7 linked regions of the Homo sapiens genome follow. The protein of the gene in region 3 purifies or fractionates together with the protein of the main gene of each other region. This does not show direct contact. Each region holds a gene or a part of one and is shown on either strand. Other genes may lie near its edges.

Region 1 (3,500 bases), on a different chromosome or scaffold from region 3:
GCACCTGCGTACTGTCTCAAATTAAATACAAGCTGTAGGCATGGTGACACTTTAAGAAGACACAGGAGGCAAAAAGCCACACATTCGTATGGGGACAGAGTCGTTTGAGAGTCTGTTTTCCAGACCTAGTCTGAAAAAAGAAATAGTTAAATAGGGATTATATTTTACCATGAAACTATATATTGCATGCAACATATACAATCCATAAACAGCTGTTGTAGATTTTAAAAATCGACTGTGTAAGTTGTGTAGCACAGGGCGAAACTTTGACTATCAGCTCCCTAGGAGGCAAATTTTTTTTCTCACATCTCAGATGAAATTTTACTGCAGGTAAATGTGGACCATTAATATGGGGAGGACATAAGAGAACGGCATCCAGTTGTTCTGGACCGGTTGACTTGGACCAAATTTCCAGTATATCTGTGTTCCTAATAAGCCTTGATCAGCAGCCACAGTGAGATGGGAGTGTGATAATTCTACATTTATAGTAATTTAACTTAAATTTTATGAAAACACGCGGGAGGAATAAATACATTTTTATTTACATGATGAATATTCTACATGTGTAATAATTGACTTACAATGTTGACATGGACACAGTTTTAAAGCCTCTATTAAATATGCTTTAAAAAGTTCTTAAGACATTAACCTTAAGGATTAATTATACTTTGTTGTAAGCATAAAATATATTTTTAAGTGTTTTCAATTTATATGATCTATTTGGGAGTACTGTATTGACAAACTGTCTCCAGTTAAAATTCAATACCTGTTTTTCTAAAATGATTATAAGCAGAAAGACTATATTAAAAAGCTCTATGTTATATATATATTTAAAACACAGTAATTTTTATTCTTTCACTAAGCCAAGTTTGTGAAATGTTAGCATCATTTTATTTTAAGTTTAACATTTTGAAAAAAGATTAAGAAAACAAAATATTTAGGATAATTATACCATACCTTAACAACCTTTAAAATTCCCACATTTGTTCTTTCATTCATTTCTATCTCAAACCAATTTCCTTCATTTCCAGAGATAAAGAAAATTACTGCCATCCAGTTAGCTGAGAACTCTTCATCCAAATCAATTACTCTAATCTCGAGCAAATTTGAATTTAGAGTATTTTCTTGAATTTCTATGGTATACTGAAACAAGAAGTGAAAACTCTTAGCACAAACTGTGTGAAAGAGAGAGAACTACAGTAGGCTTATACTGGAATGTTGATAACTTCATTATTTAGAAAAGATATCTGTGGTTTTCATCTCATTTTTCATTGCTTAACTCCATTTATTCTTGCATAAACACAAGAAAAAAGTATGTGTCTACATTTGGGTTGTATGTCAATAAACATAACATGTGCCTCTGTAAGCAGAATTGTTCGTATATGTTTTAGAATATAGCGAATTTAGATTTATTAATTCCAAGAACAAATACTTACTGAAGACTGTTCCATGTAAGGGATATTATCATTGACATCGAGGATTTTAATGTTGCACTCACATTCCGCTGACATGCCATCTGCCCCGCCATCTCGGTCAGAGCCTCTTACAGCAAGAGCATACTGGCCGTATTGCTAAAAATACATATTACAGGCAATATCACACTTGACGTAGACAGCCTTTACTTTGTCTTATGTAAAGTTCTTTGAAAAGTTGGCTCAACGTTTACATAAATCTATGATAGAGGTAGGGTTAACACAGAATATGGGAAATCCACAAGTTTCACATGATTATTCCCAATAATACTTATCACGCATTATTTAAAAGATGCAACACGTTTTAAAAGGCTTCATTTCTTATTAATAATAATATGTCCAGAGGTTGAAAAAGTTTATAAAGGGTAAAACAAACCAGAATGATCTCAAGGAGAGAGATTAAGTTTACCAAAAATTTATGGCATGAATATTCCATAACCTAAATAATCAGCCCCCGAGTGTGCAAGAAGCATATAAACAGATAACAAAGCTTTGTGTTTTGAGAGGTAGTGGGTTATGGCAGTGGAATTATTGGTGATGTATCTATTCTTGACTCTATTCAATGGTGCTTATATTTCTAGAAGCTGGTAAAATCTATGGAGGCTTTCCTTGACTCATGCAAAAATGCACACTCATTCAAAATGGTGGATATAATTTAGGGGGTTTTATAGAGACATCTTGAGGTCTCTCCATTGACCCCAGGTTGAGAATATCTGCCCTGGTGGCTTCCCAATGGCTGCAGAGTCCCTTTCCTTCTGACAGCCCTTTCTTACAGTGCTTTACCACGAAAGCTCTTTTGACATGAAAGAAACCTCATTGGGCTGTTTAAGACAGTTTGAGAGAGAAAAGTGTAAACATTCAATTTCTTCTAATGTTGATTTTCAAACATGTATAAAAGGAGACTTAGGTAACATAGAAACTTGTAACATTTAGATAATTAAAGAGTATTAAAATAATATGAATTATCCTAAACCTAAAAGTCATCAGCAAGAAGATTGTCATTTTTAATAATTAAAACAAAATTAATTGAATACCATCAGAAAATAAAGCTTCCTCACTTATGCTCCTAATGTACATTTAGGTTGCAACATTCTATTAAAAGACAATTTTTTTTAAATAATGAAAAAGCACTTATTTTAAAACTAAATCATAAAATCACAAGGCATGCTAGAAACCTCATAATGCTGATTTTACTCTGTTAACATCACTAGTTATTTTCTTATTTGTAAATAAAAAGATTGGTCAGTCTGTCATTTAATTCCTATCCATCATTCTTATCCTGTGGTTCATTTCCCAAAGTAAATGAATGGGTGAGCTATCAATAGATGTTACATAGGAAAAACAAGAATTCTGTTGTCAATGGAGCTTAGATATGCTAGGTTAAAGAAAGAGAACTTAGTGTATCAATATTCCTGGAGCCTCCAGCATACTCGCATGCACTGTAACTCACCAAAACGTGGACATATAGCAAGTCATTCCTAAATTCATTTTATTATAGAACACACTTTTTAGAGAAATGGAGCTTTTGATTCTACCTTAGATTCTACCTTAGGCATATTTTCATGTACTTTCACAATATAGTTTTCTTAAATTGAAGTAAATTTTAATCAATTAATTATATGAAAAATAGTACAAAACGTAATTGAAAAATCCTCCCTTTTTCATTTAAAAAATATTTCTTACATGAAAGAATTATGTGAAAAAGTTATACAAGTAAAAATTTAAACCATCATTTTCTTCATCTCTTTGTCTCTTCAGTATCCTTGCTTTTAGAATCAGTTCCTTTGAGACCAAAAACCCACTTAAAGAAAAAGAATTACCTCTCTGTCTAGAAAATTATTCATCGTTCGAATTTCTCCAGTATTTCTGTTGATAATAAACATTGGTGAATCTGAAGGTTCTTGTCTTATAATCTTGAAGGCTATTTTTGAGTTCAAATTGTTCGGTTCATCTGCGTCAGTAGCATTGAGTATCATCACCAGTGTATCTAGAAATTAAGGAAAATTGATTGCAAATGGGTGATTTACA
Region 2 (3,500 bases), on a different chromosome or scaffold from region 3:
CTTGGATCCACACACAATTCAGTTGTTATTTTTTAAGTTAATGTTTTTTATATATGGATTTATTTTTGCTTTTTTAGGCTGATTCAGTGTGAAAATGAGGTAGGGAAATTGTTGTTTATCACAGAAATCCCAGAATTAATACTGGAAGACCCCAGTGAAGCCAAAGAGAACCTCATTCTGCAAGAAACATCTGTGATAGAGTCGCTGGCTGCAGATGGGAGCCCAGGGCTAAAATCAGTGCTATCTACAAGCCGAAATTTAAGCAACAACTGTGACACAGGAGAGAAGCCAGTGGTTACCTTCAAAGAAAACATTAAGACACGAGAAGTGAACAGAGACCAAGGAAGAAGTTTTCCTCCCAAAGAGGTGAGAAGGGACTATAGCAAAGGAATAACTGTAACTAAGAATGATGGAAAGAAGGACAACAACAAGAGGAAAACTGAAACCAAGAAATGCACCTTAGAAAAGTTACAGGAAACAGGAAAGCAGAATGTGGCAGTGCAGGTAAGCTGTATTTGAACTATAAAGCAGGTAGAGGAAGGCTCACACAAAAGGCAAGATTTTTCATTTTGTTCTAAAGCCATGAGAATTGGCCGTCCTGGAAGTTTAAATGCATTATTTAATTGCATAGTAAGGTTATATAAAGAGCTGTGATAGATGGTTACTTTTTCAATTCTTGGGAATTGTGAGTGAAAAAAAAATCTCAGCCTGATTTGACACTTTCGTCAGTCTTCACCAATTTAAGCAGTTTGAAAGGATTAGTTGCAGAGTTGTCAGTTTCACACAGGATTATATTTTATTTAGAAGATATAACTACCATTTGTCAATGCTATAGTGGAGATTTGGGGTCTTCTGTAGATCCAGTAGAACCAAGAGTATATTAAGGCTTATGCAGTTTTTTTTTTTAGATTCACTATAATATATATATATGTGTGTGTGTGTGTGTGTGTGTGTGTGTGTGTGTGTGTGTGTATTTTTTTTCTTGGAAAAATATGAGACTTTTTTATTGACAATTATACTTGTCCCGGCTATTGGTATTAATATCACTTTAATCTTATCCTGGATCCTGGGAATTTATAAAGGAAGAACCCAGGTTTCTTGCTGGGAAAAGATAAGCACTGCTCAGTTATTTGTGACTTTCTTTTTATTAATATATTTTCCCAAATAGAAAAGATGGTTTCATGTAAACAGAAAAGGGCCTTTATTCTGTGATGGTTTTATTAATACTATTAATGTTTGAATAAATACTTAAGCAGCCATGTGAGTTGTTAACACATTTTAGCAAATGTATGTGTTTGCATGAGAAACTTTACATTGTTGAAGGCTGCTTACAAATAAATAGTACCTTTGAAGTATTTCTCTAATTTTTTTGAGAAAGAGAAATAAGAAAATAATAGTTCCATTTTAACATTATAGCAAGGAGAGAAACAGAAAGACAAGGTAGAAATTAAGACATAGGGGAGAGAGAGAGATGCTAGGGAAAGGCAAGAAAAAAAAAAATGAACTAGAAAGCCAAAGGATCCGAGTTTTAGAGATAATGAGTCCAGCATTTTCTGTTTACCTTTCCTCCATTCTCTGTAACTGCTCACAATAAGGTCCAGACTGAAAATACAATCTCCTTTTTTGGTTTCTCATCCATCTCAAATCACCTATAAATGATTAAAGAAAGAAAGAGTAAACATATCACCACACTCTGTACCTCGTCCTGGGTTTTCTATAAATGCTACTCATGTTCCCTCATTTTGCTCAACTTTGAGCAGTGCATATGACATCTACTCTCTGGCTCCATCTATAGGATCTCAGGGCCTGTTCCTTACTGCTGAAAGTATCCTTATTTATTCTGAAGGGTGGTAAAGTTGCAGGGTGGAAGGTGGATGCCTGACTGCACATATGGCTACCCAGATGAAATCAAACTGAGGGCCAAAATAACTCACCTATGGGTTAATAGTCATTATTAGTTCATAATTCATGTATGTCGTTTAATGAATTAGAGTATAGAGAACCCTGGGCCCCAGAACAAGCAACTTAAAGTCATAGACAAGTTTTTTTCAACTTGTTAGCATCAGGCATCTCATTTGTAAAACAAATGGGCTCTAAGGTCCTTTACATTTTTGGATTTTTGTGATCATGGGAAAGCAAAATAATTAGTAAAACTAAGATAGTAAAATTATCTTTTATTGGCTATTAAATAATTTGCTTTGATTTTCCATTTTTAACTTAGGTGAATTTAAATATCTTCAGCATGTACTTTTTGATCTAATGAGGTTTTAAATACTTTCTTAGGAGTAGGGTCTTCTTTCTAGCACATTTGAGTTTCAATTTATTATAGATAGTTTTGCTTCTATTGGTTACAGGTAAAATCCCAGACAGAACTAAGAAAGACTCCAGTGTCTGAAGCCAGAAAAACACCTGTAACTCAAACCCCAACTCAAGCAAGTAACTCCCAGTTCATCCCCATTCATCACCCTGGAGCCTTCCCTCCTCTTCCCAGCAGGCCAGGTAAATATGTTTTGTAATTTCTTCTACTTAATCTTTTCTGTGCAAGAATTTCTATTCAGTCACTGAGAAATGTGTTTTCTGTTGGAGTAATGTTACTAAGCCATAAAAAGTTCTATTTTCCCTAATACTTATAAAATTATTTTTGAACTGTTTGTGTGTAGTGTACATACAAGTGCATGTTTGTTATTATGAAGGAAATCCTATCACTAAATACAGAAGCTACTCACAGAACACTGATTACTTCAGTGGATAGAGGAAAAATATCAAGTCTATTTTTAGTTCTTCAAATCAAGTTAAAGATTGACAACATGACTAATCTCTTTTGTGATGTGTTAGAAGACTCCCTCTACCTACCTGTTAAAAAAAAAATGACTTTTTTTGCAATTTTTTGCTGTTTCCTTAAAACTAAAGCTGTGTTCTTCTGTTTTGAAGGGTTTCCGCCCCCAACATATGTTATCCCCCCGCCTGTGGCATTTTCTATGGGCTCAGGTTACACCTTCCCAGCTGGTGTTTCTGTCCCAGGAACCTTTCTTCAGCCTACAGCTCACTCTCCAGCAGGAAACCAGGTGCAAGCTGGGAAACAGTCCCACATTCCTTACAGCCAGCAACGGCCCTCTGGACCAGGGCCAATGAACCAGGGACCTCAACAATCACAGCCACCTTCCCAGCAACCCCTTACATCTTTACCAGCTCAGCCAACAGCACAGTCTACAAGCCAGCTGCAGGTTCAAGCTCTAACTCAGCAACAACAATCCCCTACAAAAGCTGTGCCGGCTTTGGGGAAAAGCCCGCCTCACCACTCTGGATTCCAGCAGGTAAGTTACAGTTGTGTGTACTATCCAGCTGAATGAAATAAGGGGAAATGCTGAAAGATTCAATGTTAGAAATGCTCATTAAACTTTGACATACTTCTTGCTTAGATTTATAGTGATTATGGGAAAACAAAAGTATTGTCTCTACTGTTTATGAAAGTTCAAATGTTTTCCTTACTCTTGTAAAGG
Region 3 (3,500 bases):
GTGGCCGGGCGCGGTGGCTCACGCCTATAATCCCAGCACTTTGGGAGGCCGAGGCGGGCGGATCACGAGGTCAGGAGATAGAGACCATCCTGGCTAACACGGTGAAACCCCGTCTCTACTAAAAATACAAAAAATTAGCCAGGTGTGGTGGCAGGCGCCTGTAGTCCCAGCTACTCGGGAGGCTGAGGCAGGAGAGTGGCGTGAACCTGGGAGGCGGAGCTTGCAGTGAGCCGAGATCATGCCACTGCACTCCAGCCTGGGCAAAAGAGCAAGACTCCGTCTCAAAAAAAAAAAAAAAAAAGTTTGATGTGACTTTAACGCATAATTTTAGAGTGCTGGAAAGGGCCTGGTACCCCAAAAGAGTATTCTTCTAATGTCTGAACCCCGGAGGCGGAGGTTGCAGTGAGCCGAGATTGCGCCATTGCTCTCCAGCCTGGGCAACAAGAGCAAAACTCTGTCCCAAAAAAAAAATTTTTTTTCATTTGTTCTACAGTTTGATAAATCTCAAATTAATACAAAGTTGAGAAGAAAATCAGCTTAGTAAATACAGTCAGCTTCTCTCTTAAGAACAGGTTTTGAGAACTTGATATAGGAAATAAATACCTCCAGGGAGAAGGGTCTTTTGTACCCAAAAGAGGCAGGGTAAAGAAGTCGAGAGGCTTGTAACAACATTACCAACTTGAAAATGTAACCTTGAATTGTACTTTTTATTATCCTGGCTTACAGTTACGTTATTAATACCAACAATGACAAAGTAGCCCCCTTTTTCTTAATAAATATCATCTCATTTAGTCTGTACAAAATGCTGTGAGTTTGGCAGGATTATCCCTATTTGAAATATGAAGAAACTGAGGTTAAGTAGCTTACCCAGGACCATGACACTGAGCAGCAGAGCTGGGGATTAAACCCAGATTCAAAGTCCTTCTTCCTCTTGTATAATACATGCAGCAAAAACATGTCAGATTCTACTAGAAATGATATTCTTCCTAGTAATTGCTTTTTGTTTAATAATGAAGAAAAAAATCTAGATGATTAAGAGGAAATATGTGAAGACAAGTTTTTTCATTAAAAATAATTGGGGCTGGGTGCAGTGGCTCACGCCTGTAATCCCAACATTTTGGGAGGCTGAGGCAGGCAGATTGCTTGAACCCAGGAGTTTGAGACCAGCCTGGGCAACATGGCAAAACCCCATCTCTACAAAAAATACAAAAATTAGCCGGCTATGTTAGCGCATGCCTGTAACCCCAGCTACGCGAGAGGCTGAGGTGAGAGGATCACTTAAGCCCAGGAGGCAAAGTTTGCAGTGAGCCGAGATTGTGTCACTGCACTCCAGCCTGGGTGACAGAGCAAGACCCTGTCTCAAAAATAATAATTGGTTAAACTTTTGGAAAAAGTCACACAAACCTTTACCAGTGTGTGTGGAAGGCAGTGGGCACTTGTAAACACTGTTAAATGGGTTTCTTTACTAATGGCAAATAGCACAGAGAAAAGCAATGAGAACATTCTGAATTTTAGAGCACATCTCATAGAATATATTTAGGACAAGGTGGAATTTAGCTATTTGTATTATAACATCTCATTTTTTTAATAGGTGCCTGATTATTACAAAATAATTAAAAATCCAATGGATTTGTCAACCATCAAGAAAAGACTACAAGAAGATTATTCCATGTACTCAAAACCTGAAGATTTTGTAGCTGATTTTAGATTGATCTTTCAAAACTGTGCTGAATTCAATGAGGTGAGGCTAGGGGAGGGAAGGGGGCAGGAAGGAACAGCAGTGTGAAAATCATTTTATTACTAAACACCTTGTCAACATAGGAGACCAAGATGTCTGAGTTAGAATAAATTTCCAACTTTTCAGATCAGGGAATGCAAGAGATAATTCAGATAACTCTGTCCACATTTATATTCAAAGGTTTATTAGATGGTGATGGAAATGCAAATTACAGCTGATAACTGAAAGACAAAATGTTTTTCTCTGACCTAGACATATTCTTTATCATTCCCACCTGTATTTCTTATTTTTATGTTGATCTTGAAATATTAAGGATGTGGGCCAAATAGCTCTAATTTAAAAATTTCTCATCTGTCAGTTCATCTACACATCAGTCAGACTTAGAACCTTTTGCTGCTGGTGGTTTGTTCTCTGTTACTCATTCTAATAGTACTACATTTAATTTGTTCTAAAAATACCTGGTTCATGATCCTATGGTTATGGAATCCTAACTGATATGTGTTTGGCAATATAGTCCTACCATTACCACCTTCTTTTAGAATAATCCAGGCTTTTACTTTTATCTTTTTTCCACACTTCTGAATCTTTTATTTTAGCTGGCCTTCTGTACAGAGACTTTGTCTAGTCCTAAACTATTATTTCAATGACTATGCATGAACACTTTTCAAAACAGCTCATTAATATATATAATCTCAGAAGTCAAAAGTGTGTCCTTTTTTTACTCATTTTTATTTTTACTCCACAGCCTGATTCAGAAGTAGCCAATGCTGGTATAAAACTTGAAAATTATTTTGAAGAACTTCTAAAGAACCTCTATCCAGAAAAAAGGTTTCCCAAACCAGAATTCAGGAATGAATCAGAAGATAATAAATTTAGTGATGATTCAGATGATGACTTTGTACAGCCCCGGAAGAAACGCCTCAAAAGCATTGAAGAACGCCAGTTGCTTAAATAATATGCAGCACCACTAGCTTGTGCTGGTTTTTAGATTTTTTTGTTTTCAAAAAAACATTTGTCAGTAATTTAACATCACTACAAAAAGAAGAGTTTGTGACTATTCTCATCTCTGTTTTGGACGTTTACTAGACTTTGATTTCCTTAATAGCCCATTTCTGTTAACCTCTTATCACTAAGAAAGAAAGGAAAGAAGGAGATGAATAGAAGAAAGAAAATGGAAAGAAGGAAAAAAGGAGGATAGAAAAAGGATGGAAGAAAGAAGCATTGAAAACAAAGACATTCTTCCCACTTCTTGGATTTTTAAACCACAGTCTGGAGTGATAGCTACTGTAGAAAGGAAATAGACTTTGTATGAACTCTTTAAGTTGAAAAGTAAAAAATATATGTGGTTTGGATGTGTGCTTTAATTCAGCTTTAGAAATTAATACCACTACCCGTGAATTATATGGCCTGACAATATGAATTAGGTGTACTGTACTGAAGAACAGTACTCCACAAACATGGGTGGTAACAAGAGTTCCATCCCAGGAGGCCAAACGGTGCAACAGAAGGGTAGGTTAGATGCTATTAAGAAGGCACTTAATAGTACATCATGTAAGATGGCAACTGTATTAAAGAAAAATCCGGAAAACAAATGTTTGATTTTTGTTTTTGTTTTTATCTTGTCTGTAGAGGTATTTTGGTATAGCAGGTTTTCAAGGCCATTTTTTATACATTTCTAGATCTAGATTTTCAACTTCTTCCACTGAGGGAAGTATATACATTTGGGTTTGCTGTGTGTCTATGTGAGGTTTAATTGTACAGG
Region 4 (3,500 bases), on a different chromosome or scaffold from region 3:
TACCAAACCATATTACCTAACCTCAAATGGACCCTTTATCATCTCTCATCTTTTCTAACCTTTTCTTTTTTTCTTTTTCTTTGTTTGTTTGAGATAGAGTCTCACTCTGTTGCCCAGGCTGGAGTGCAGTGGTGCAATCTTGGCTCACTGCAACCTCTACCTCCTGGGTTCAAGCGATTCTCATGCCTCAGCCTCCCGAGCAGCTGCGACTACAGGTGTGCATCACCACCACGTTAGCCAGGCTGGTCTTGAACTCCTGGCCTCAAGTGATCCACCTGCCCTTGGCCTCCCAAAGTGCTGGGATTACAGGCGTGAGCCACCGTATCTGGCCTCTAACCTTCTTTTATGGACTTCTTTCTAGAATACCCCCCAACAAATTCCAGAACAGTAATTGTCAACTCTGGCTACACATTCAGATCCTGAGGAGTTTAAAACAAATTCTGATCTAGGTCCCTTGATCAATCAAATAAGAATTTCTCATTTTACTGGGAAAGGGTAGCTATCTATATATAATTTTAAAGTAATTCTAATGTGCAGCTCAATTTGAAAACCATTGTTCAATAACCTCTTTTGATAACTTAGGAAATAGGAGATCAGTGGATCAGCTTTTAACAACCACATCGGAGACTACAGCTTGCTAGATCCTGAACTTACACATCCCAAGCCATCTGCAGTGGATTTGTCCTCCAAGGTGAAGTCAACATGGCTCCTCTACCCATTTCTTTATCACTCATTAATTTCATATAACCTCACAATATGACTTGTGACTCACCACTGATTGAACTAAAACTGGTTTTTTGAAGGTCACCAAAATATTTCTAATCAATTCAAAAGGCGATTGGATTCATCCTCAAATATGAAGTTCAAACGCCTGTTCTGCCCTTCCATCTTCCCTCTTATGAACCTTGGTATCATTAGTTTCTGTGATCACAAAAGCTAAAAACCTCATACATCTTTATTTTTTTTCTTCTCTCACCCTCAAGTTTAGTCACTAAGCCTTAATAAATTTCCATTATATATTCCCTCACTGCCTCTGGAATCTCCTCTCTAGAGTTAGTCCCTCTGATTCAGCTTGGCCAGTGATATTTTAAAATGCAGTCTTAACTTCTCCTTTGTTCCAAATTGTACAGAAGCTACATCCCTAAGCATTCCAGACTATGTCAGTTTAATTCCAATCTTTCAACTTCATTTAACTCTCACATGAACCCTACAAAATAACTGGATGAGCGGATATAGTTGGTGCATTAAGTCTTTTTTTATGAGGCAGAGTCTCACTCTGTCACCCAAGCTGGAGTGCAGTGGCGCCATCTCAGCTCACTGCAAGCTCCGCCTCCCGGGTTCACGCCATTCTCCTGCCTCAGCCTCCCGAGTAGCTGGGACTACAGGCTCCCGCCACCACGCCCGGCTAATTTTTTGTATTTTTAGTAGAGACGGGGTTTCACCGTGTTAGCCAGGATGGTCTCGATCTCCTGACCTTGTGATCTGCCTGCCTCCCAAACTGCTGGGATTACAGGCGTAAGCCACCGTGCCCGGCCACATTCTTTACACATCCTCTGTAGTGAGTTAAAGATCACCATGAATTCTTTGCCATTCCTCCCACCAACAGGTGGAGACTATTTACCCCCACTTTGAATCTGGACTGGCCTCATGACTTTGACTAAGAGAATGTTACAAAGGGCCCTTTAAGAAACCTGGTACTCTCTTGAGATTGAGATTGTCGTGGCCAACATGGTGAAACTCCATCTCTACTACAATATAAAAAATTAGCCAGGCGTGGTGGCGCATGCCTGTAATCCCAGCTACTTGGGAGACTGAGGCAGGGGTATCTCTTGAACCTGGGAGGTGGAGGTTGCGGTGAGCTGAGATTGCGCCACTGCGCTCCAGCCTGGCGACACAGCAAGACTCTATCTCAAAAAAAAAAAAGAAAAAAGAAAGAAACCTGTACCCTCCACTTACTCTGTTAGACAATTGCCATGCTATAAAGCTTTGACTAAACTCTTAAATCATAGAAATCCACACAGAAAGAGACCTAAAAGATATTCCAGCCGAGGCCAACCTCTGAGCTGAACACAGCCTGCTCGATTGAGTTCAGTCTGCAGCATGTGGAACAGAAACACTGCCCAGCTGAGCCCAGTCAAACCACAGAATTATGGGAAGTAAGAAATCACTGTTTTAAGCCACTAAGCTTTGGGGTGGTCTGTTAGTGAAGCAATGGTGAATTCCAACATCCTCAGAGCACCATCATCTGCCTTCTCTCCAATAACCAAATAATCACCCATCCTTCAAATTAGTGGACAAGCATCACCTCACAGAGTTCTTCTCAACTACTCTGCTGGCCTGGAGTACCTCCTCTAGCATCTGACATGCTATATAACTCATGCTGACCCTCTTGTCTGGTGCCTTGAGTTATCTCTTACATAATTATTTTACTTCTAGTAATTACGATGGTTCCCATTGAAGCACAGAAAATGGAACTTGTGCTTGTTTCTTGTAAGTTAAGTGTAACATATGTGTTTTAAAATATTCCTCCAAAATGTATGAGAAGGCATCCAGGTAAAAAATTCATGCTACTTCATGCAACCCACCTCAAGTGGTTCTCAACCCTGGGGGTTAAATATATGAGACAGTGTTTATTTAGACCAGGACTAGGGCTAATGAAGCAAAGCAGACTTAAGACTAAAAATCTGGAGCCATGGAAACAAAGTCTTATCAGGATAAGGGTAGACACTTTGATTAATGATCGGACTCAAACAGCTTGAGAATATAAACTGAAGGCTCATTAGTTATTAATAATTCCAATTTAATTATAATTAAAACCAAATTTGGAGTTTCTTTATTTCAAGGGCTCTCAAAAGCCCAACCATCAGCCAAAATCTATCTTCAATTAGATAATGATTAGGAACTTAATACAGCAAGAATTTTGTTTCACACTGAAGTTGAATATTACTTTGTTTTTTTAAAGTTTATATGCAGATTCTTGCTCTAAATTAGTGATCTAAACCTTTTAATCATAGGACCCTACAGAGTAAACAAGTTTGGAGTAAACATCCAATCCATAGACATGTTTTACTGTAACACATAATGCACATTAGAAAACAAAGGACAAAACTGAAACTTGGTACAATGAGAAAAAATAAAAATAAAAGTGCCAACATATTCTTCCAGTACCCTAAAGTATCACCTTGAATATCCCTTTGGGGAGTACAAACCCCACTTGGTAGATAACTGCGCTGGTTCATCAACTGATAGGGGAAAAACCCAACCACACTCTTGGTCTTCATGTAATTCTGTGAATAAAATTTGAAATAAATATATTAAATAAATAAAGTAATACCTGCTGGTGGAAAAGTTCTTCCTCAACAACCACTCCAGCTGCTTCTTCCTCCTCCTCCTCTTCTTCAGGTATGGTTGTTTTAAAGACTGTACTTCTTTGAGCAACCTCCTAAAAACAATAGTAGTTTAAGTTAAAAAACACACTTAAAATCACCAAATGCGGGGGA
Region 5 (3,500 bases), on a different chromosome or scaffold from region 3:
GAAAAATTTTAAAAATGAAAATGGCAGGTCCTAGACTTAGAATCCCAGGATTAAAAGTGAGGAACCTTGGCAGTTACCTAGTCCAGCTATCCACTGGTATCTGACTTCTAAGGTCCCTCAAAAGGTAATCATTCTCAAGTAGGGTGGGTTAGGATGTTATGTTAGAACCACCTGGGGGACTGGGCACATATTTTGAAAATGGTCCCCAGGAGGATCTGACAGCAGCCCCCAGTGCCACCTCTTAAGAACCAGTGCTCTAAATCAGTGCTTCCCAAACCTGGCTCTGCATCAGAGACATTTGAGGAGTTTCTTTAGGATAAGAAACTTGGTCCAATTTCCAAAACTTCAGTAGACCTGAGGTACAGGAAGCTGCATTTTTAACAAATGCCATGGGATTTCGATGTACAGCCAGCTTTAGGAATATGATTTGTCCACACATAAAAGCAAAACCAAGCTCAGATCATTCCTAGGGATTTTTGTCACAGGACCTTTTGGGATGGGATAGGGACAAACATGACAGGTGAATAAGGAGGATGGTGACTCTGGGTAAGCGGGTGGCGGGGGACTCCAGGTGAGGAAATGAAATGGGAGATGAACTGGCAGTGGGATGGAAAGAGTCAACATGGAGATTTGCCCTCCTCTTCATCCTCACCACTGCAGGCACCACCCTAGGATGAGGGGTTGTCCCAGGCAGCACTGGTGGAGGGGGAGGAAGAGAGAAATCCCAAGCTGTAGCAGTGGGGAGAAAGGAAGTTCCTGTGGTCTTTCTTATGTTTCTCTAGGTGGCTGCCCATACAAGTGGCTATACCTAAGGTGGGGGCTGCCTGGACTGTACTGACCGCCAGAAATGGGCAGGCGAAAAGTTAATTTTCTGTGGGTAAACTACCTTTGGAATTTAAAGTTTCAAGGGCTTTGCCCTTGAAATGTTTACCTTCGATGACATTTTCTTTGTATATGGTGGCCAATTTAAAGATGAGTTAAGCTCTTGAGATGAATTACTATTCCACATTCCAATCTCCACATCCTCTTCCTCTTCCCAGCCAGTGGGGCGATTTCCAGGCAATGGCATATCATCACCACACCAGCCATCTTGCATAGATTTTGGCCCTGATTGTGGATTTGTGATATAAAGAGAAACATACTTTAATAAAAGAATTCCTTCTGGAGAATAAGTATATATTAAAAATTGGGTAGAGAACCTAAGAAAACACACACGTGCACACTTATTTCCCTTCCTGCATCTGCACAGAAGGAAAGTATGTTTTATACTGAGCTAAACCTTCCATGAAAAATAATATATTCTTATTTAAAAATTTAATAAAACTCCTCCATGCCTTTAACAAATCATAGTTCTTGAACATGGACAATGGTAGCACTCTTGTTTGTACCCACTTAATAATCTGCATAGTGATGCACAGGACAAAGAAGATGAATGAAATTTGAAAGAATTAATTTTTATATATATTTTTAGGGAGAATGGCCAGAGAGTATTCAAAGCCTTAAGCAGAAAGCATCTTATCTTCACACATGGCCCTTGGGATTCCTACCGGGCATCTTGTACACAGCCTATGGGATAATGACAATGTTAATTTCAATCTTGGGTCTTTTCTGAACTATGCTAATTGTAACTTTCAGGGAATCATCTGACAGTCTGAATATGTGTCCTCATGGCTACACTAGTTGGCCTCTCAGGCTGGATGGCATGAAAGTTGCTAGTAGACTCTTCCTAGATAACCTAATTTGGTAAAATATAATTTAGATTTGATGAAGTATATGCAAATGAATAGTTACAGTTCTAAGAAATATGAGAAAAGAGGAAAATTCAGAAAGAGAATAAACCACGTTACAAAATCAAAGAGCAAAATACTGAACATCATCTATCATGTTACATTATATGAATATATTATAAATAACATAGAAACCTTATCTAATTATTTAATTATAGTCAGTGAGTGTTCGCCACTGCTACATAACAGCTACCAGGCATTGTCAATAACTTACCAGATTTGCTTAATGCTTGTGGACCAACAGAGCTGGAGCCCCACGTGGATGTGCTGGATGCCGCAGCAATGGGTTCCCCCCAGCTGGGACCACTGTCTATGGGCTTACCCCATGCTGAAGTACCATTATCCACAGTTGTGGCTGGAGTAGAAGGCTCCCCCCAGGGCTCACCCCAGCCTTTAGAAAGTGTGGGAAAAGAAGTCATCAGCATAGAAGGTAAGGAGGTGCAGTGGAATAAGGGACAATAAAGAAAACTTAGGGACCAAGGATGAAGAACTTCATGTTTATGTACTGAATAATGATACTGTGATAGGCAAAAAGATGGCATCTGTTTTATGTTAAAAAAAGACAAACTATTTCCCATTAATATAAGGTGAGAATTTTTTTAACTTTTTTCATAATTACCCTCTAGACCTAGAGCTGATTTTTGCATAGTTATGGAAAACCACTCTCCTTTGAGCATCAGTTTAATTCCTGAAAAAGTCAAGTCATTCTAAACCAAACCTTGTAAATTGGAGCAGGTGATAAGCTGGGTGACAGTGTATGTATAACATCTGTACCAGCTGGGTACAGTGGCTGATGCCTGTAATCCCAGCACTTTGGGAGGCTGAGGCAGGTGGATCACCTGAGGTCAGGATTTTGAGACCAGCCTGGGCAACATGGCAAAACCTGGTCTCTACTAAAAATACAAAGATTAGCTGGGCGTGGTGGCACACACCTGTAGTCCCAGCTACTCAGGAGGCTGAGACAGGAGAATTGCTTGAACCTGGGAGGTGGAGGCTGCAGTGAACCGAGATCATGCCACTGCACTTCAGCCTGGGTGACGGAGAAAGCCTCCATCTCCAAAAAAAAAAAAAAAAAAAATTGTGCCACAAGTGTACCCCTTCCACACCACCTACACTGGAAAAACAATTTACTACCCAGCTAACAATAATGGGTCACCTACTTTTTACATATGCTGAACAATGCTTATTTTAAAATCTGAAGTATTAGGCTGAGGTTGTCCAAAGCAAAAAAAAAAAAAAAAAAAAAAAAAGCCATAAATGTTTCATTAAAAAAAATCAAAGCCAACAGGCTTCATCTTAGATACATACTTCTTCCTTTTAAGAATCAAACCTAAATTAATACAACAAACTATACTTAGACTAAAAAAAAAAAATTCAGTGCCAAAAAGTTAGCTCATGAAAGCACTCCCATATCCACTTCCAATGAGACTATTAAGTCAATAAAACTTTTATTAACAAAGACAATGTAGCCAATCACACTTAACAAAAATGTTGTTGGGAAAATTTGCAGAGATAGGAATTAGTTCATTATTAGAGAGGAAAGTAAGGATATACTAGAAAGGTATTGTCAAATGTTTTAAATACACAAACATATATACTGTATCTAAGTAGAGTTGGATTTCTCACCTACTTAAAAAAAAAAATCCCTTCTAAAGCCAAATATACAACCTAATGTTTAGAGAGTACTGTATTTATGAGATACTTGTTTTATTT
Region 6 (3,500 bases), on a different chromosome or scaffold from region 3:
TAAAGGAGTGATGTCATAAAAGAAATGCAAATTAAACTTTACAAACTTTAAAAATAAAAAAATACAATGATAAAAGGAAGAAACACACACATTATTTGTATTCAGAATCTATTTAGCCTACTCTAGTAATCTAATGACTCAGCTAAATCCTAGTAATATCATTCTTATTAAAATACCATTCCAAAATCTAAAACATAAAATTTCAATTTTCATAATTTAGGAAAAAGAACCACAGGTTGATACTATTTATTTCAAGATAGTAACACTTGCAAACTCTTCATAGGTCCAGGAAATTAAAACACCTCATCCATGGAGTCTAGTGACCCCCTCCAACAGTCTGGGCTGGCTTGTTACTACTATTCATAAATGTGCTCTACCTCAGAGGATGAATGATGTACTTCAGACCTGTGAAGTCAACCCTCCAGCAATAAACCCTCTAGTATACTTTCCTGCACTAACCAGTAAAACACCAACATGGTAAATTCATCCTTTCAAGAAAGTTAATTGATTCCAGAGACAACTGAGAAATGCCAAATGACTGGCGCATAAAAGTACCGTTTCTAAATCACAGATCCTAAACTCCATAATGCAGATTGACCATCACCTCTACAAATACTGCAGTGGGTCAAGTTCAACTCTTTTACACTGTCCCCTAAGATGCCTAGAAACAATGTGTGATAAAGCCAGGTGTAACAAGAGGAAAGGTGGCTAAATGCAGCCCATTTCCTGAAGCAGTCACCCATTTTATGCCCTCAACACATCTCCTAAGTTAAGAAGCATAAAAGGTTTACTCAAAGATAAAAGCTCTGCACCAGGTGGCCAAGCTGACACCAGTGATTTTGGAATTAACTCTAGGGGGACTTTAAAACTTCTGCTTCCTACCATCTTTCTGCCATCACACTTCCTTGCCTGTAACTGGTGATTCATATCCATTTATCAAATATTTTCTGAGCATGTACTACACACCAAGCATCGCTCTAAGAGCTGGATAACAGGCAAGGTCTTCATCAGATTTACTTCTAGAGAAAACATAAAAATAAGCAAAAATAGGGCCAGGCATAGTGGCTAATGCCTGTAATCCCAGCACTTTGGGAGGCCAGGGCGGGTGGATCACGAGGTCAGGAGTCCGAGACCAGCCTGGCCAACATAGTGAAACCCTGTCTCTACTAAAAATACAAAAATTAGCTGGGCATGGCGTGCCTGTAATCCCAGCTACTTGGGAGGCTGAGGCAGGACAATCACTTGAACCTGGGAGGTGGAGGTTGCAGTCAGCTGAGATTGTGTCACTGCACTCCAGGTTGGGCAACAGAGTGAGACTTCATCTCAAAAAAAAGCGAAAAGGAAATAAACGATGAACTATATGGAGACATTTAGATAATTTAAGAATATTTTTATCTGAACTGTGATTCATTTAAATGCCTGTTTTATTTAGAAAATTCTGCCTATAAATCTACTGGAAAGTAGTCTAAGTTTTCAAATCCTAAAATCTCTCTTCTTCATGTTACGCGATATTTGACATTTATTCCTATGGTGTAGTGCTTATTAAGGTTGGAATGTGTAATATGTGTTAATTAGTTTCTTCCTATTCATATAAATTTCAGAAAACTAAAATGAAGAACAATGTCGATCTAAACATGTTAGACATAGGAGGAAGTATACCTGCGTGTATTTTGATTCAGAAAATTAAGTTGTAGTTTTGATTACTTTCTTCCTGGTGTACTTGGACATCTCTATCGCAAACATTTATATGACTTTACAAAGGCATAAAGCTTATAATTCTTTGATTTGCTCATACCAAGATTTCCTTACCTTGGCACTACTGGTATTTTAGGCCACATTATTCTTTGCTATGGGGGCTGTTCTGTGCACTGTAGAATGTTTGGCAGCATCCTTGGCCTCCACCCAATAGATGCCTTCAGTTAACATCCTCCCCCAGCTGTGACAACCAAAAATGCCTCCAGGCACTGCCAAATGTCCCCTGCCAAATGTCTCAACTGTCAACCCTACTTGAGAGCCACTCACAGGTCTTCACTGAGTAAACATATTGTTCTACAGTATTAAAGAAAGTTCCAAACAAGAAAAAAAGGATTTAAATGAACCTCCTCAACCCAGAGGCTATAGGCTCCCTGAAGGTTTCCTTCCTTTCCTGTTCTGTTCACTCCTCCAGGCCTGGGCATTAACAGGTGCTCAAACATTTGCTGAAAGGAGAATCAATCACCATTGGGAACCAGTCAGAAAAGAGAGTATGAGAAATTTAAGATTAAAAAAACAAAACAAAACTTAAGTAATGGCCATTGATCCAGATTTTGAAATAATTTAATTTGTCTGGCTATATAATGGAATGCAGCAAATATTCTGATTAGAGTTGAGTGCCTATGCTAAGCATAATGGGGTACAAGAGGAGTAAAACAGTCCCTGGCCTCAAGGAGCCTACGGGTGGCTGGGGGAGGTAAATATGCAGTTATGCAGGTAGGTGCAATACAACAGACTAGAATGTCCACTGCAAACATACACCATGCTGTGTGTGTATTCCCAGTCCACTTTTTCAAATATCAAGAGATTCCATGAAGAAGGCTGGCATTTGACATGGGCTTTGAAGTGTAAGTAAAATTTTGATGAGCAAAAGTAGGACACAGTACAGTAGTTAAACAAGAGGGAATGACATAAGCAGAAACTGGATATTTCTTGGGGAAATAGTGACCAGTTGGGTTGGGAACATTTTAAAAAGTACAGTAGAGGGATTGTGAAACATTAAGTAAGGTCAAATGAGTTCAGGTCGCAGGAAGGTCTACAAGTCTGAATAAGGAATTTGGACTTAATGGTTTTGTTCAAGTCCCAACAGGAGAGTGACCTCCCTGAAGATGTGGCCGTCTACCCTGCCAAAGCTGTGCAAGATTAGTTCCACTGGGGCGCGGGGGTAGGTGCAGAGGCCATTCTTACTGCTACCCACAGTAATACAAAAGTGTAATGACATGGAATTTACCTATAGTATATGCCTTGCATTCTATTTTTCATTCTATTTTACTCCGTTATTTTTAAGTAATGGCAAACATCCAATAATTTGGTTTCACAACCCACTGAAGGGTTTGCAAAGCATTTCTTCGACCTTTTGGATAAATATGGTGAATTCAAATGTTGGGGGTACTGGAAAAAAGGAAGAGTATAACAGTTAAGTAGGAGACTACTGAGCCAGAATTGGCCTGGTGTGTCATTATTCTAGGGACTGGGAGGATGGGATGCTGGAATACCAAGCATGACTCTATGGTGGTAGAGGGTGTAACTCTGAAGTGAATGATCATGAAGTTCAAGCTAGTTACAGCTAAAAAGGAAGCCAACAGAATGGGAAAAGAGAAATGGCGGAAGGCAAGCAGGGGACAGACGGTGGGAGCGGCAAGGAGTGACAGGGACACAGCGTTCAGAAGTGTTAAAGGTGGGGTCACTTTTCTCACTAATTATACGGTCCAAGCTCTGGAGTATCTAAAGTGCAATTAGAAATTCAC
Region 7 (3,500 bases), 3.2 Mb from region 3:
ACTTAGATTTTTAATTAGATTTGTATTTTTATTTAATTAGATTTGTGTTTAAGATTTTCCACCCCCAGCTGACAAAGATGCAAGTTATTTAGTAGTAACAGTTATGTTACTACTAAATGGTATTTTTGAGCCATTTCCATTTTTATCCATTCTAAATTCTCTCATTACTATGAAAGGTGGCATAAAAGTAACATTGACAACAGCACCTGTGGAGCAGAAAATTCCAAAAAACTATGAGGATTAATATAAATACTTTTTAATTAAATTATATTTTTCTTAGTATAGAAAGCATGTATTCAAAATTATTTGTACTTTGATAAATACATTTAAAAATCAACTTTACTAATTAAAATCTGTTATATTTATTTGATGGAAGTGACTTAGGTTGGTTTTGATTATGAATGGTTGAGAGTATAATTGGAGTGTCAAGTACATTTTTTTCCTTTGATTAGCAAAATCAGTCTATATCATTCAGTTTTTGAAGCTAGTAGCTTAAGAGTTAAGTAACTGCTAGAAGTACATAAGGCCTTTTGTAATTATATGATCTTAATGTGCTAAGAAGTCACATAGATTTTGCACTTACTTAATTTGTAAAATGACATGTTTAACTTTCAGTAGCATGGATACTTATTAAGTATGAAAATGAGCTATGTATCTGATATTCATCACTATTTTTCTTCCCAACAGAAACAATCCCAGTATCATCCTCTACAGACTGGCAAGCAGCTTTTGGCTTTGGTTCTTCTAAACAACCAGAGGATGACTTGGGTTTTGATCCCTTCGATGTCACTCGAAAAGCCTTAGCAGACCTGATTGAGAAGGAACTGTCCGTTCAAGACCAACCTTCCCTTTCGCCCACATCTCTTCAGAACTCCTCTTCACACACTACAACCGCCAAAGGTCCAGGCTCTGGATTCCTGCATCCTGCTGCAGCTACAAATGCCAATTCTCTCAATAGTACCTTTTCAGTCTTGCCCCAGAGGTTCCCTCAATTTCAGCAGCACCGAGCGGTTTATAATTCATTCAGTTTTCCAGGCCAGGCAGCCCGCTATCCTTGGATGGCCTTTCCACGCAATAGCATCATGCACTTGAACCACACAGCAAACCCCACCTCAAATAGTAATTTCTTGGACTTGAATCTCCCGCCACAGCACAACACAGGTCTGGGAGGGATCCCTGTAGCAGGTAGGTTCATTTAAAACCTTTGAGAATTTTTGAATAACTCATATTTTCAGGTTGTTGGGTGGATAGGGAAGTAACTGTTGAATAACAGAGTACTAATATCTTGGAAATGTCTATGAAAGATTAGTCTTTATCATAATCTAAAATATATTTTTCATTAGATGGATGCCTTGTAATATTGAGCTTTATAAGGATGGTGGAGTATTATACTTAGTTATTGTTTGGAAGCATTTTACTTAATAGGATAATTACCAAACTTTCATATGGTATACAAATGCAAAATGAAAAAGAAGAAAATGGTCTCTGAAGTTATGGTACTATAAAGTCCAACACCGTGGTGAAAATTATGATTTTATATTCTAAAGTAAAATGGTTAAAAAAAATTTTTTTAATGATAATTAATGAGAGCATGAGGGATAAAGCCACTCTCTACCTACTTTTGGCAGTTACTTGTTTTGACTGATACACATATACACACACATCAAAACTGAGCTATAAATATACTTGAGAACTCTGATTATGAATGTTTTACAAGCATATCATATGTCTCAGACATACACCTTTTGTGAAAGAGAAATTGTTCAAGGAAAGATACTTTCCCATTTGATCTGCCATGTTTTTATTTCTGGGGAAAAATATGAAGTATATATAAGGTAATGTAAGTTTGATGCCAAAATACTTCTGGTTTTGTACTGCTACCCTTGAAGGTTTCAGAACTTTTGGGTTTTAAGATTCTATATAACATTTTTTAGATGAAGTATCTTCTATATCCAAGGGAATTATTCTTGTTAATAGTGTTCTCGTTTAACTTTGGCTTTAGAGATGATGTTAAAAAAAGTTTGTTCCTCTCCTGATTCTCTCAAGTGAAATAGAATCATGATTCTCTCAAGTAGAATACAATAGTTTCTCACTCTGTTAGAATAGTTCTTCACATAATTCATACAATTTATTGTTATCCCTTGTTAGATATGGCATGGCACAGTATTATTGTAATAGGATACTTTTATCAGCAGCAAGGCAGAAGTTCACGCTCTTGTTTTTAGCAAGGCTGATAGATGAATTTACAGAGGTCTATCAAAGTTCTTTATCCCTGTTCCCTTTGGGACCGACAATATTTCATGTTTTAGACGAGTAGCTAGGTTAAGAGAATATAGTTTGTGGCTGTTGACATAGTGAAATTTACCGTTGATACAGTGAAGTTAATTTACATAAGCCTGGTAGCACGTAATGTAGTTATTTGCACAGTGTTGGGACTCTTATTTGTTCATTTAATTATGGTAGTTAGTAGGTAACCAGAGTGACATTTTTCAGTCCTCTTCTTCTACATGATACTTACTTGTGAAACAATGTGTTCAGTTCCAAATACTCCTTTTATTTCCTTCCATTCAAGATAGCATATTAGAATGTAATTTTCTTTGATTTTACTTTGCTTTAATCATTGAGAAATGTGGCATTTTAATTACTAGTAGTGTATCTCATAATTGATTATAACATTCATTAAAAGTTAAAGTTAAGTTCTCCCAAATCATCAAAACATTTAAAGATTAGACCAATTACAGTGAATATGAGGGTTTCTATTTGCCCATCAATGAATTAGGACATGTGGGACATATTAAAGAAGTTTAAGATATGGATAAAATTTCCACATACTTAAAGTATAGTTGAAGAGACTAAAATAATGTGTGAAAGTGGTAACTATATGTCTGATACTGGAATCTGAGAGACATCAATGTACCCTGTAATTCTTGGGGAGGCTTCATTGAATAAGTAGGAATTGATCCCTACTATCATATCTTAGATTTGGGTTAGCAGCAGGGGAAGAGAAAAGGCCTTTTATGTTGATGGAAACCTCCTGAGTAAAGGCATAGAGGCAGGAATTAGTATGTCATTACACTGAGAAGTAATACAGCTACCTCCTATAACAGGAGGTGCTTCTTAAATTGTATAGATATAATGGATGAGAAGATGAGAAACTCTGACAATGAGGCAAAATGGCATGGACTTGGTATGATAGGAAGTAGGATGCCTTTATGGGATTCTAGTTATTAGCTGTCTTCTTTTTGTGCTTTTATTTGACTTATTACATGACGATCTTTGATTTTCTTCCAATTTCATAGTCATCATATTATCCCTTAACACTGAAGAGTAGTTTTAACCCATATATTTCAAACCAATAGTTATTCTCAGAATGCTGCACTGGTAATGAGAAATCGCTGATTAGTGAGTTTAGTTGTCCTTGTGTTAGTCATTTAAAATCTTCGTCTAAAGTAGATGCTTTATGGAAAAAATGTGACATTAAATTATGGTCCTATCTTTGG

The links.
Region 1: the proteins of TRIM24 (region 3) and DSG1 purify together in Homo sapiens (affinity purification with mass spectrometry, with the first as the bait; one large-scale study listed by BioGRID). This does not show direct contact.
Region 2: the proteins of TRIM24 (region 3) and SMG7 purify together in Homo sapiens (affinity purification with mass spectrometry, with the first as the bait; one large-scale study listed by BioGRID). This does not show direct contact.
Region 4: the proteins of TRIM24 (region 3) and LMNB1 purify together in Homo sapiens (affinity purification with mass spectrometry, with the first as the bait; one large-scale study listed by BioGRID). This does not show direct contact.
Region 5: the proteins of TRIM24 (region 3) and TNRC6A purify together in Homo sapiens (affinity purification with mass spectrometry; 2 studies listed by BioGRID, with this or other methods). This does not show direct contact.
Region 6: the proteins of TRIM24 (region 3) and FAM120A purify together in Homo sapiens (affinity purification with mass spectrometry, with the first as the bait; one large-scale study listed by BioGRID). This does not show direct contact.
Region 7: the proteins of TRIM24 (region 3) and CNOT4 purify together in Homo sapiens (affinity purification with mass spectrometry, with the first as the bait; one large-scale study listed by BioGRID). This does not show direct contact.

Annotation. Positions count from the first base shown.
Region 1 is NC_000018.10:31,331,660-31,335,159, reverse strand, and holds part of DSG1 (desmoglein-1 preproprotein), read right to left. Parts: intron 3,460-3,500; coding exon 3,293-3,459; intron 1,572-3,292; coding exon 1,437-1,571; intron 1,144-1,436; coding exon 958-1,143; intron 1-957. UniProt on the Homo sapiens protein: Component of intercellular desmosome junctions. Involved in the interaction of plaque proteins and intermediate filaments mediating cell-cell adhesion.
Region 2 is NC_000001.11:183,541,999-183,545,498, forward strand, and holds part of SMG7 (nonsense-mediated mRNA decay factor SMG7), read left to right. Parts: intron 1-77; coding exon 78-504; intron 505-2,354; coding exon 2,355-2,499; intron 2,500-2,931; coding exon 2,932-3,314; intron 3,315-3,500. UniProt on the Homo sapiens protein: Plays a role in nonsense-mediated mRNA decay. Recruits UPF1 to cytoplasmic mRNA decay bodies.
Region 3 is NC_000007.14:138,582,259-138,585,758, forward strand, and holds part of TRIM24 (transcription intermediary factor 1-alpha), read left to right. Parts: intron 1-1,591; coding exon 1,592-1,741; intron 1,742-2,483; coding exon 2,484-2,693; 3' UTR 2,694-3,500. UniProt on the Homo sapiens protein: Transcriptional coactivator that interacts with numerous nuclear receptors and coactivators and modulates the transcription of target genes.
Region 4 is NC_000005.10:126,832,636-126,836,135, reverse strand, and holds part of LMNB1 (lamin-B1), read right to left. Parts: intron 3,443-3,500; coding exon 3,335-3,442; intron 1-3,334. UniProt on the Homo sapiens protein: Lamins are intermediate filament proteins that assemble into a filamentous meshwork, and which constitute the major components of the nuclear lamina, a fibrous layer on the nucleoplasmic side of the inner nuclear membrane.
Region 5 is NC_000016.10:24,792,151-24,795,650, reverse strand, and holds part of TNRC6A (trinucleotide repeat-containing gene 6A protein), read right to left. Parts: intron 2,179-3,500; coding exon 2,002-2,178; intron 1,108-2,001; coding exon 932-1,107; intron 1-931.
Region 6 is NC_000009.12:93,458,185-93,461,684, reverse strand, and holds part of FAM120A (constitutive coactivator of PPAR-gamma-like protein 1), read right to left. Parts: intron 1-3,500. UniProt on the Homo sapiens protein: Component of the oxidative stress-induced survival signaling. May regulate the activation of SRC family protein kinases. May act as a scaffolding protein enabling SRC family protein kinases to phosphorylate and activate PI3-kinase.
Region 7 is NC_000007.14:135,391,603-135,395,102, reverse strand, and holds part of CNOT4 (CCR4-NOT transcription complex subunit 4), read left to right. Parts: intron 1-687; coding exon 688-1,185; intron 1,186-3,500. UniProt on the Homo sapiens protein: Has E3 ubiquitin ligase activity, promoting ubiquitination and degradation of target proteins. Involved in activation of the JAK/STAT pathway. Catalyzes ubiquitination of methylated RBM15.